2 separate regions of the Homo sapiens genome follow, and region 2 is linked to region 1. Evidence: fine-mapped expression QTL. A gene starts in region 1. The other region holds a variant in brackets. All regions are shown on one strand. Distances are from middle to middle.

Region 1 (5,359 bases):
GAATTTATTTTAGGTCATGGAGTAATTAAAAGGCTTTTGGATTGATTATCTAGGTATGGGTGTACAGAAAACACTTGGAATTACAGATCTGGAGCTCAAGAGAGAAGTCTGGGCGATAGTTTGGGAGGGATCAGTATGATGGGAATGGATGAGATTGCCCAGGGAGAAGAGAAGCAGCCTTATCTGAAATCTCAAGCATTGTAATGTTTAAGAGATGATGAAGAAATGAAGCCAGAAGAAGAAAACAGAAATCATGGTGAGAGGTGGAGGAGAAGCCAAGGAGGGGATTTTCAAGAAGGAGTGGTGCCAAATGCTGTAGTGAGGTAAGAAAATGAAACCATTGGAGTTGACATTTGGGGTTTCCCTGGTGGTCTCTGTTCAGAGAATTGAGGAATAAATGTAAGATGAGGAAGTGGAGGCAGGGGTAGACTCCTCTTTGAAAACATTAGGCAGTGAAAGGAAGGAGAGTGATTTCAAAGAGCCATAGATTTTAAAACAAAGCAACAAAGGAGTTGTAGAAAGAGGTACATAATCAGATGCTTAATGAGTGACAGAGGTACCTTTCAGAGTTTTTCCAGCAGCTTTGGGGAGGTGGGAAATGGAGAATGGATAGGTGTCAGGTGCTGATCAGATCTGTGACAGGGAGACGCAGACAGAACTCAGTGTTGACGGCGTGGCATAACATGCAGGCTCCACATCTGGGCCACAGCTGTAGGTGGAGAGGAGAATGCCTACTTCTGAGGGGATGTACGATGGGACCAAGTTGGCTTCTTGGGATGCTCAGAGCCCTAGGAGTGAGCACCAATGAGCCACTCTTTTGCAGTTTTCCTCCATTTTCAGAAGGCAGGCATCCCATAATTTCTCTGGCAGATTATTTGCCTTTCCAAGTGCTCTCCTAATCCAACATTTCCATCTGGCACACAGTGTCATTCTTGCTCCTGAATTCCTGATTCCAGAGCATTTCTGCCATTTTCTTCCTTTGCACAGTGTGTACCTTCCCTCTTCTCCTCTTCTTCCAAATGTCCATATTTTTGTGGTGGAAAAAGTGGGGACAGGGGAGACAGAAGACTGGAATCCTTATCAAGTCCTCTCTCAGCCCTTGGTGGCTCTGGTTCCTTCTCTGTGAAAGGGTGACGTGTGGGGAAGGGGTTGGGGATGAGGTAGGAGAGGGGGTCTGAGTTCCTTCCCACGTCTAACGATGGCTGGAACCAGGCCTCTGTGTTCAACCAAGGGTACTTTCTGTTTCTGTCCATTTGGGGAAGTTGCTTTTTCTTGGTATTTCGGGAGTCAGGAAAAGAAAAGTCATTGGTGTTCATATCTCTCAAAGCCTCAGGTAGGGCTGCGGCTTTTGACCAACAATAACGTATGACCATGACCTTGTGGCCGAGTTTGCACGCCTCTAACAGATATTATGACACAGTTCCATTCAATAGTGGAAGTGGAGATTTCAGCGTTGCCCTTTGTTAACCCACAAATGAAGTGCTACTCTTCCATTGTGAGGGCTGTCGGAGCAGTAGCCAACCTTCTTATCCCCATTTTTTAAACGAGGGAAAGGAGGCATAGGAAGCGCAGTGTCTTGTGGGATTCCCTGGGGAGTCCTTCCAACTCTTGGTAGAGCATCATCTGCAACGTCGTCTGGGGGAGAAAAGGGGGAGGCAAGAAGAGGGCCTTGACCCTGGAGGCAGGAACTCCCGCACACCCTCACTCCCTTCCCCAGGGGCTGGGGAAACCACTCAGGTGACAGTAGCCTTGGTGCCGGCCAGGGAGGGCGGGAAGTCCAGCCAGAGGCTGGAACAGCAGTGCTGAACGCCGGGACTGGCTGGTATTTCTATGAAGGTTCCTGCAGAAGGATGCGGGTCAAGGTGCCCGTCTGCACAGCAGTAGTGCAGGCATTTTAAGGGTTAAGGGCACCCAAAGAAAATAGAAGTAGGGGCCGGGCGCAGTGGCTCACGCCTGTAATCCCAGCACTTTGGGAAGCCGAGGCGGGCGGATCACGAGGTCAAGAGATCGAGACCATCCTGGCCAACATGGTGAAACCCCGTCTCTAGTAAAAATACAAAAAATTGGGCGTGGTGGCGCGCGCCTGTAGTCCCAGCTACCCGGGAGGCTGAGGCAGGAGAATCGCTTGAACCCGGGAGGCGGAGGTTGTGGGGAGTCAAGATCGTGCCACTGCACTCCAGCCTGGCGACAGAGCGAGACTCCATCTCAAAAAAAAAAAAAAAAAAAAGAAAGAAAATAGAAGTAGGAAGAGGAAGTGGGTCGCAGTGAGAGAAGGAAGCAGCTCGTCGGAGCTTCCTCTTTCTCGTCTTTCCCCTAAGCCCCTACCCCAGACCTGCCCCCCTGCTCCGCCCAGCCCTCCTGCGGGGCCAAAGCCGCGCTTCCGACGCGGGGGCCTAACCTCCCCTTACTCCTTGGGGGTCGCTGGTGCTCCGCGCTGGTGCCCCTCGGGCCACTGCCATGGACCGGCCAGGGTCTGCTTCTTCCGAGGGCTGGCGGGTCAGAGCCGGGGCTGCTTCTCAGACGCCTTGCGGCCTCGGGGGCGTGACCCAGAGGATGTGGGGCCGGGCGCGCACCTGGCTGACGCTGCCGGGCCGCCAGGTGGCTGGAGAGGCCGGCTCCGCGGTCAGCCCCGCCCCATTAGGCCCCGCCCCCTGACAGGCTCCGCCCCGCCCGCCGGAGGAGCCCAGGCTGGGCAGATGCTGCGGCTCGCCGCGCGGCTCCAGCTGGGGCGCGGTGGTCCCGACGGTCACCCGAATCGCAGGGAGTCGCCGCTGGAGAGGGGCTCGGCGCCCGGCGGGGACTGCAGGTGTGTGACTGGGCGGCCAGGGCGGATGCGGAGGGCACGCATGGGAGCTCCAGGCAGAGCTGGAGCAAGCTGGGGACCGTCGGGGAGAGTGGGCTCCGCGAGCAGCCGCCGCAGCCCGAGGGCTGGACAGATCCTGCTATCTTCCGGCCCCGTGGACCTGGCCCACCGCGGGGGCAGCGGGTCTGCAAACCTGCGCTCCAGATAACCCCAGAGACTTAAGGGGCGTCGCGGGGACCACTTATCGTTATCCGGGTAACCTCTGCTGGGCGGCTCTGCGCAGCTGTGTCCTCAGCCTCCTGCCTCTGACACAGGACGCCCTGTGTCGTAGGGTCAGGTCCCCTGCCCGCTCCAGCGGGGAACTGTCCGTGAGCGTGGGCATCAGGGCTCTTGTGCCGTCAGAACCTGGGAGTCATGGAAGTGCCCGCGTAAGGCGCCCTCCGTCGAGCCTCACTCAGCCTGCTAGTTAGCCAGCCTTGGGCCCAGACGCGGCTGCTGTCCTAGAGAACTGCACGCTTTCTGCTCTCAGAGGATCTGTGTTTACACACTGGACATCCCCGCGTGACTCGTGTGTGTGTGTGTGTGTGTGTGTGTGTGGGCATGCGCATGTGCGCGTGCTGGCCCATCCCGGCCTGGGGTAAATACACAAAAAGTTCAGGTCAGTAGGAGGAAGGAGATTGTTCAGAAGGAAAAGGAAGGCGAGGTTAAAGCAGCAGGATGTGGTATAAAGCGAGTTAACAAGACTCGGAGTAGAGAGGAGGGGTGGGTTTAGGCAGAATAAGGGCTAAAAGTAGGCCAAGCCTGCCTCCAAGGTCCTCTCTGGACTGACACCCTCGTTTTCCTTCTGTGTCTTCTCATCCACCCCACACTTTCCTTCCTGCCCTCAGGACCACCTGTAAGGCACTGGCTCCCAGAGCTGACTGCAGGTAGGGCTCTCTTGGAGCCAACCCTACAACGTGGCTTTCCAGGGATGGGATCTGGAATCTGTAGTTTTCAAAACTTTGAATGAGCTCCTTAAGTGATGATGCTGAAGCCGTTGCTTGGGAACCATGCATGATGTGGAAAAGAGACCCAAGTTCCAACCGGATCCAGCTGTGTGACCTGCAGCATCACACTGTCCCCCAACCCAGCCTCAGTCTCCTGATTCATAAAATGGGCTGTCATACTGACCCATAGAGCTGTGTGGAATTATTATTATTATTATTATTGAGACAGGGTCTTGCTCTGTCACTCAGGCTGGAGTGCAGTGGCGTGATCATGGCTCACTGCAGCCTTAAATTCCCAGGCTCAAGCAATCCTCCGCCTCCGCCTCCCAAGTAGCTGGGATTACAGGTCAGCACCACGGCGCCCAGCTAATTTTTGTATTTTTTGTAGAGGCAGGGTTTTGCCATGTTGCCCAGGTTGGTCCCAAATTCCTTGAGCTCAAGCGATCCGTCTACCTTGGCCTTCCAAAGTGCTGGGATTATAGACATGAGCCACTGTGCCTGGCCCAGTGTGGAAAATTAAGTGAGGCATGTATGATGAGAACGGCTGCACGTGGGAGATGCTCCGTGGATGTTTGTAGAACGCTGGCTTCCGTGTTTCCTCGTTGTGGCTGTGGTGGTGTGGGTCTTTGCCTGTGGACCCGTGGAAGACAAAGAAGACAGTTTTGGATGGTCAAGCTACTTTCTTGCTTCAGGGCTCCCTCCCCTGCTTTTTGAAGCCTCACAAACCAGGACTGTGAGGGCAGGAAGGCTTGGGGTCTTTGTGTGCTGAGCCTCATTAGGGTTTTAAGAACCTCCCTCCTTTCATCTCTAGCTTACGAGAGGGATGATTCATTATCTTCCCTCCTCAGGCTGCAGTAGAAGCAGACAGTCTCTGCCTCCCTGCTTGCCTTTCCTCCCTCCCATTCACTGTTGATTATTGCCCTCAAGAATAACAGGTTGCCCAGCTACTCGAGAAGCTTAAGTGGGAGGATTGCTTGACCCCAGGAGTTCGAGGCTGCAGTGAGCTATGATCGCTTCACTGCGCTATAGCCTGGCAGACACAGAGAGACCCTATCTCAAGCAAACAGACAAACAAAAAAAAAAAAAGAAGAAGAAGAAGAAGAATAGGTTGGATGCTAACTGGTGGCACTGGGTGACAAGAGCATTTGGGGTTGATGTTGGCATGAGGATGAGAAGGCAGGGGTGCAGGCTGCTCCATACCCCTGTGTTAGCCATCCATCAGGGGCCTGCTGGCTGAGGAGTGGGAGAGGAGGAGAGCCAGGATCCTTTTTGCCTGGGTAGCCTAGAGTTTGGAAGCCCCAGCTTGGGTTCCACTGAGCACTCAAGCTGTGCTGACTTGGCCTTTCTTCAAAGATGCTCATCCCAAGGGACTGAGCTGCGTGGCCCTGTGGGACCTCTGAGAACCAGAATGCCTGTTTGGCCTCAGCTGGTGAGCTAAAAGCCTGAACCAATGTGTTAAGAAAGAAAGCTGGCCAGGCATAGTGGTTCATGCCTATAATCCCAGCACTTTGGGAAGCCAAGGCTTTGAGGCCAGGAGTTCGAGGCTGCAGTGAGCTATGATCGTGTCACT
Region 2 (5,359 bases), 81 kb after region 1:
GAGAGCACCAATGACATCTCCCACTACCTCGGCATGCTGGACCCCTGGTATGAGCGCAATGTACTGGGCCTCATGCACCTGCCCCCTGAAGTCCTGTGCCAGGTAAGTGGCCCCGTGGTTGCGGAACAGGGTCCACTGGCTGCAGTCACCCAGCCTCACTTAGAAGGCCCTGGATTTAGGGAATCAGGCTTGAGGCCCCCATGGAGGACCTGGGCCCTCTTGGAAAAGATCAGGGAGTGTGGGTGAGAAGCAGGACTGAGCCTGAACTCAGGACACTGAGTGTGAGAGCTGGGGTCACTGCAGTGATGGAGGAGGGCCCTCAGAAGGGTCCGGGGGACCTCAGATTTCAGCCCCCTTCCTCAACTCCCGCCTTTGTCTGGCTAAGCCAGAAGCCTCCCTGGAGGCCAGTGGGTCAGGTGAGGGGCATGGAGGCTGGGCACCGGCCCTCCCCTGCTTCCTGCTTCCACCTCACCAGCTCCCCCTGACTGGCTGCCTCTATGTCTCTCTTCTCTCTTCCTCCCTAATTCTTGCTCCTTCTTACCATCTATCCACCCACCCATCTGGCTTGGCTGCCCCTTCCCTCTGGCCACAGCAGTCCCTGAAGGCTGAAGCCCAGGCCCTGGAGGGCTCCCCAACCCAGCTGCCCATCCTGGCTGACATGCTACTCTACTACTGCCGCTTTGCCGCCAGACCGGTGCTGCTGCAAGTCTATCAGACCGAGGTAAGGCCTCCCTGCCCCGAACCGCCTCTTCCCCACCTGCCGGGCCTGCAAGGCCCCACCCCTGCCCCGGGAGAGCCAGCAGGTCTATGCTGGAGGAGCCAAATGGGCCCCTCCAGGAGGTTCACACTGATGTACATGCTCCTGCCCTCTCCAGCTGACCTTCATCACTGGGGAGAAGACGACAGAGATCTTCATCCACTCCTTGGAGCTGGGTCACTCCGCTGCCACACGTGCCATCAAGGCGTCAGGTGGGTACTGCCTGAGCAGAGACAGACGGTGAGGCGGGGCCTGGGACGCGAAACGTGGAGCTCTGTGGAGGTGGGGTTACCTGGGAGGTGGGGCCATGGGAAGGTGGGGTTGCACAGGAGGTAGGCCCCTGGGGAGACGGGGTTACCGGGAGGTGGGGCCATGGGGTGGCTGGGTGACCCGGTAGGCGGGGCCCTGGGGAGGCAGGGATACGGGAGGTGGGGCCACGGGAAGGTAGGGTTACCCAGGAGGCAGGGCCATGAGAGGGCGGGGTTACCTAGGAGGCAGGGCCATGGGGAGGCGGGGTTGTCCGGTAGGTGGGGCCTTGGGGAGGCAGGGTTACCGGGAGGCAGGGCCATGGGGAGGCGGAGTTACCCAGGAGGCGGGGCCCTGGGGAGGCGGGGTTACCCAGGAGGTGGGGCCATGGGAGGGCGGGGTTACCCAGGAGGCGGGGCCATGGGAGGGCGGGGTTACCCAGGAGGTGGGGCCATGGGAGGGCGGGGTTACCCAGGAGGTGGGGCCATGGGAGGGCGGGGTTACCTAGGAGGCAGGGCCATGGGGAGGCGGGGCCCTGGGGAGGCGGGGTTACCCAGGAGGTGGGGCCATGGGGGGGCGGGGTTACCTAGGAGGCAGGGCCATGGGGAGGCGGGGTTGTCCGGTAGGTGGGGCCTTGGGGAGGCAGGGTTACCGGGAGGCAGGGCCATGGGAAGATGGAGTTACCCAGGAGGCGGGGCCCTGGGGAGGCGGGGTTACCCAGGAGGTGGGGCCATGGGAGGGCGGGGTTACCCAGGAGGCGAGGCCATGGGGAGGCGGGGTTGCCTGGTAGGTGGGGCCCTGGGGAGGCAGGGGTACCGGGAGGCAGGGCCATGGGAAGGTGGAGTTACCCACGAGGCAGGGCCCTGGGGAGGCGGTGTTACCCAGGAGGCAAGGCCATGGGGAGGCGGGGTTGCCTGGAAGGCAGGGCCCTGGGGAGGCACGGTTACCGGGAGGCAGGACCATGGGAAGGGGGGTTACATGGGAGGTCGGGCCAGGTGGAGGCAGGCTTACCCAGCAGGTGGGCCCTGGGGAGGCAGGGTTACCCAGGAGGTGGGGCCCTGGAGAGGCAGGACCCTGGGAAGGTGTGATCACAGCGGAGATGGGGCCCTGGAGAGGCAGGACCCTGGGAAGGTGTGATCACAGCGGAGATGGGGCCCTGGAGAGGCAGGACCCTGGGAATGTGTGATCACAGCGGAGATGGGCCCTGGAGTGATGGGGTCACTGAGGAGGTGGAGATCCCCAGAACGTGGAGCCAGAGAGAGAGGCAGGGCCTTGGTGAGACAGATCCCTAGGGAGTCACGGTCCATGTGGTAGGGGATGGGGAGGTAAGGCCCAGGGAGGCAAGGCCACTGCGTTCGTGAGGAGCCGGGGAAGCCAGGGGTAGTGAAGGGTCTGTCTGTGTGTGGCACAGGTCCTGGCAGCAAGCGGCTGGGCATCGATGGCGACCGGGAGGCTGTTCCTCTAACACTACAGATTATTTACAGCAAGGTAAGACCCGTGCTGGGGCTCCTTCCCCTCCAGGATCTGCTGCTGATACTTCCTCCGCCAGAGCTTGG[A/G]CCCAGAGCTGGACTCGTGTGTTCCTGGGCCCCAGTCTTTACGCTGGAAGGCTGCAGCAGGCTCCCCTGGATGCTGAGAGAAGCAGAGAAGGGAAGGAGTGGATATCTCTGTGCTTCTTGGCCTCCAAAGCCTCTCTCCCACCATGTTCTCTGCCCCCACCCGAATGCGCTCAGCAGCAGCCCAGGGGTAGGGGTCTGCTGGGCCTGGCTACAGGGCTGGGGCTGAAAGGGGGAAAGGGAAGCCTTCCAGAGGCACCTCAGGGAGAAGCCAGGGTCTCGGGGGGCCAGTGTGCCTGGCAGGCTGCATGCAAGATGGGATTGGCGTGAGAAAGGAGTGAGGAGAGCTGTGGGGAGGTGGAGGGCTGTCCATGACATGCCAGAAGACATGAGTTCTCTGAGCAGGTCGCATCCCAAGGTCCAGGCTGAGGGAAGCTTGGCCTCACAGGTGGGCTTCTTCCTTCGGCCATTCCAAAGATATCCTCTTAGCACCTGCCCATGCTGCCTCTGTGCTGGGCAGGGGAAAAGAGGGGTTGAGCAGGGAAGCCTAGGCCTCACTTTAGCTTGTCTAGAGGAGGGAGACAGACAAGAAACGAGGAAACAAAGAAATAGCCAAGATAATTCCAGAGAGCGGCAAGTGATGACAAAGCAATAAAACAGCAGATGGACGGTGGTGTTGGGGCTGCAGTGCGTTTGGCAGTGAAGGAGGTGGGCAGGAGGCACCGACACTCACTGTAGCCACATGCCAGGTGCTTGCTAGACGTCTTCCACAGCCCAGGCACTGTTCTAGGCCCTGGAGCCTTCCTAAGAGTGAACAAAGGACAGACGTGGTCCCAGGAGACCTGCTGGCCCCCTGGAGTGGGTGGTAGGCATTGGTTCGATGATGCACACGATGTAAAATTACAACTGTGACACATGGATGAGGAGAGGGACACGGGATGTTCCTAAGTGGCAAACCGAACCCAGTCAGGAGAGTTAGTAGTGAAGGCTTCCTTGAGAAGGCACCTGAGTTAATATTGGAGGGAAAACCAGGAATTAATTAGGCTGAGAAGAGAGGTGAGTGCTCTCACAGCAGCAGAAACTGCATGTGCAAAGGCCCTGTGGTGGGAGGCAGTGTGAACACCTTGAAGCACTCTGAAAGAAGACCCCCAGGCTGGAGCAGAGACAGCTGGTGGGAACATGATGCTGAGGTGAGGCTAAAGAAATGGGGGACCAGCATACCAAGAGCCTTAATTGCAATGAAAGGAGTTTTGTGGTTTTTTGTTTGTTTTTTTGAGACATAGTCTCGCCCTGTTTCTCAGGCTAGAGTGCAATGGCTCAATCTTGGCTCACTGCAACATCCGCCTCCCTGGTTCAAGCAATTCTCCTGCCTCAGCCTCCTGAGTAGCTGGGTAGCAGGTGCCCGCCACCACACCCGGCTAATTTTTTGTATCTTTAGTAGAGACGGGGTTTCACCACGTTGGCCAGGCTGGTCTCGAACTCCTGACCTCATGATCCACCTGCCTTGGCTTCCCAAAGTGCTGGGGTTACAGGCATGAGCCACCACGCCCGACCCAATGAAAGGAATTTTATCCTAGTCCTAAGAGCAGTGGATATCCATTAAGGGGGCTTATGTTTGTGGTGGGGCTGGGAATGCCTGTGACATGATTATATCTGAGGCTTGGAAGCTCCCTCTGGCAGCTCTGTGGAGGACAGATAGGAAGGGTCCACAAGTGATGCAGGAAGGCCAGTTAGGAGGCTGTTGCCATGGTCCAGAAGAGAAATTAGGGCAGCAGCCTGCACTAGGGTAGTGGTGGCAGAGCTGGAAAGGAATGGGAGACAGATGTGAGTGATGTAATCAGCAGGGCCCATGGATGGGTTAGGAAAGGAGAGGCCAGACTCCTGGAGTCACTCCTCTGTGACTGGCAGCACCATCTTCTCTGGGGGGACCACAGGAAGAGGCCGGGGTCCAGTTGGGGAAGAGCTTGAGTTTGGGTCGGGACATATTATTGAGGTTGAGAGGCCTTGAGAGGTATAAGGAGACAGTGAGAATAGACGGCTGGCTGAACGGGCCTGACTTTGTGGTGAATATGAAGATGGGTGGACAGCTGCTAATGGAAAAAGGTCACGGAGGAGACTCCTGAAGGGGGGAAGCAGGGAATACAAAGAGCAGAGGACCAAGGGGAGAACCTTGAGCCCTTCATGATGTAATGGCGGGCAGAGGGCAGCGATCCAGCAAAGCAGAGAGGCACCAGCCAGAGAGGCGCTAGAAAAACCAGGAAGGTGCCATCACGAAAGCCCAGGAGAGGTTTTCAAGGAGGGGAGAGCAGTGAACTGTAAGGTCAAGTAAGCTGAGGACCAAGAAGTGTTCTTCGGTTTAACAACATGGAGGTCCCTGATGACAGAGACATTCACACAAAGACTTGAAGAGGGGGTTCAGGTCTGGCTCTGCCAGAAACAGCATGTCTGTGGGCCCAACCCTTCTTCACTCTGGGCCCGGCAGGAGAGCTTCAGGACCACCCCTGCAGGTGCTCTCAGCTCTTGTACCTTTCAACCTGGTCACAGAGGCTGCTGACCCCTAGACCAAGCCAGTGACGTGAGCTCTTCCCTGGAGTCATCCAGGTCTATCCAGGGTGGTACAGGGGCCCTGGTGAATAAGAGAGGGCTTTCTGGGGATATGCTAACTAGAGGCAACCCCCTGTCACTGATGGGCCTTCAAAGAGAAGGCAGCAGGCACCGGGGCCTCTGGACTCAGAGGGTCTGGCTACACTGCATTTCCAGGGGGCCATCAGTGGACGAAGTCGCTGGAGCAACCTGGAGAAGG

The links. PIP is the estimated chance that this variant, and not a neighbour inherited with it, causes the effect.
Region 2: its variant is the best candidate, but not a certain one, in a credible set for the expression of PIK3R5 in whole blood (TOPMed, PIP 0.70).

Annotation. Positions count from the first base shown.
Region 1 is chr17:8,963,043-8,968,401 of GRCh38, reverse strand. PIK3R5 (phosphoinositide-3-kinase regulatory subunit 5) reads left to right here and starts at 2,695. Exons shown (of 19, transcript NM_001142633.3): 1 at 2,695-2,806. PIK3R5-DT (PIK3R5 divergent transcript) reads right to left here and starts at 2,555. Exons shown (of 3, transcript NR_184080.1): 1 at 2,399-2,555; 2 at 561-1,635. RefSeq lists silencers at 2,282-2,381, 2,452-2,771.
Region 2 is chr17:8,881,839-8,887,197 of GRCh38, reverse strand. PIK3R5 (phosphoinositide-3-kinase regulatory subunit 5) reads left to right here. Exons shown (of 19, transcript NM_001142633.3): 12 at 1-102; 13 at 593-721; 14 at 876-969; 15 at 2,415-2,491; 16 at 5,317-5,359. LOC124903919 (a long non-coding RNA gene) reads right to left here. Exons shown (of 3, transcript XR_007065610.1): 2 at 2,015-2,632; 3 at 904-980. Among named protein-coding and RNA genes, the nearest start is that of PIK3R6, 17 kb to the right of the region's middle. RefSeq lists a silencer at 2,141-2,304. The variant A/G (reference allele first, on the strand shown) is at 2,560.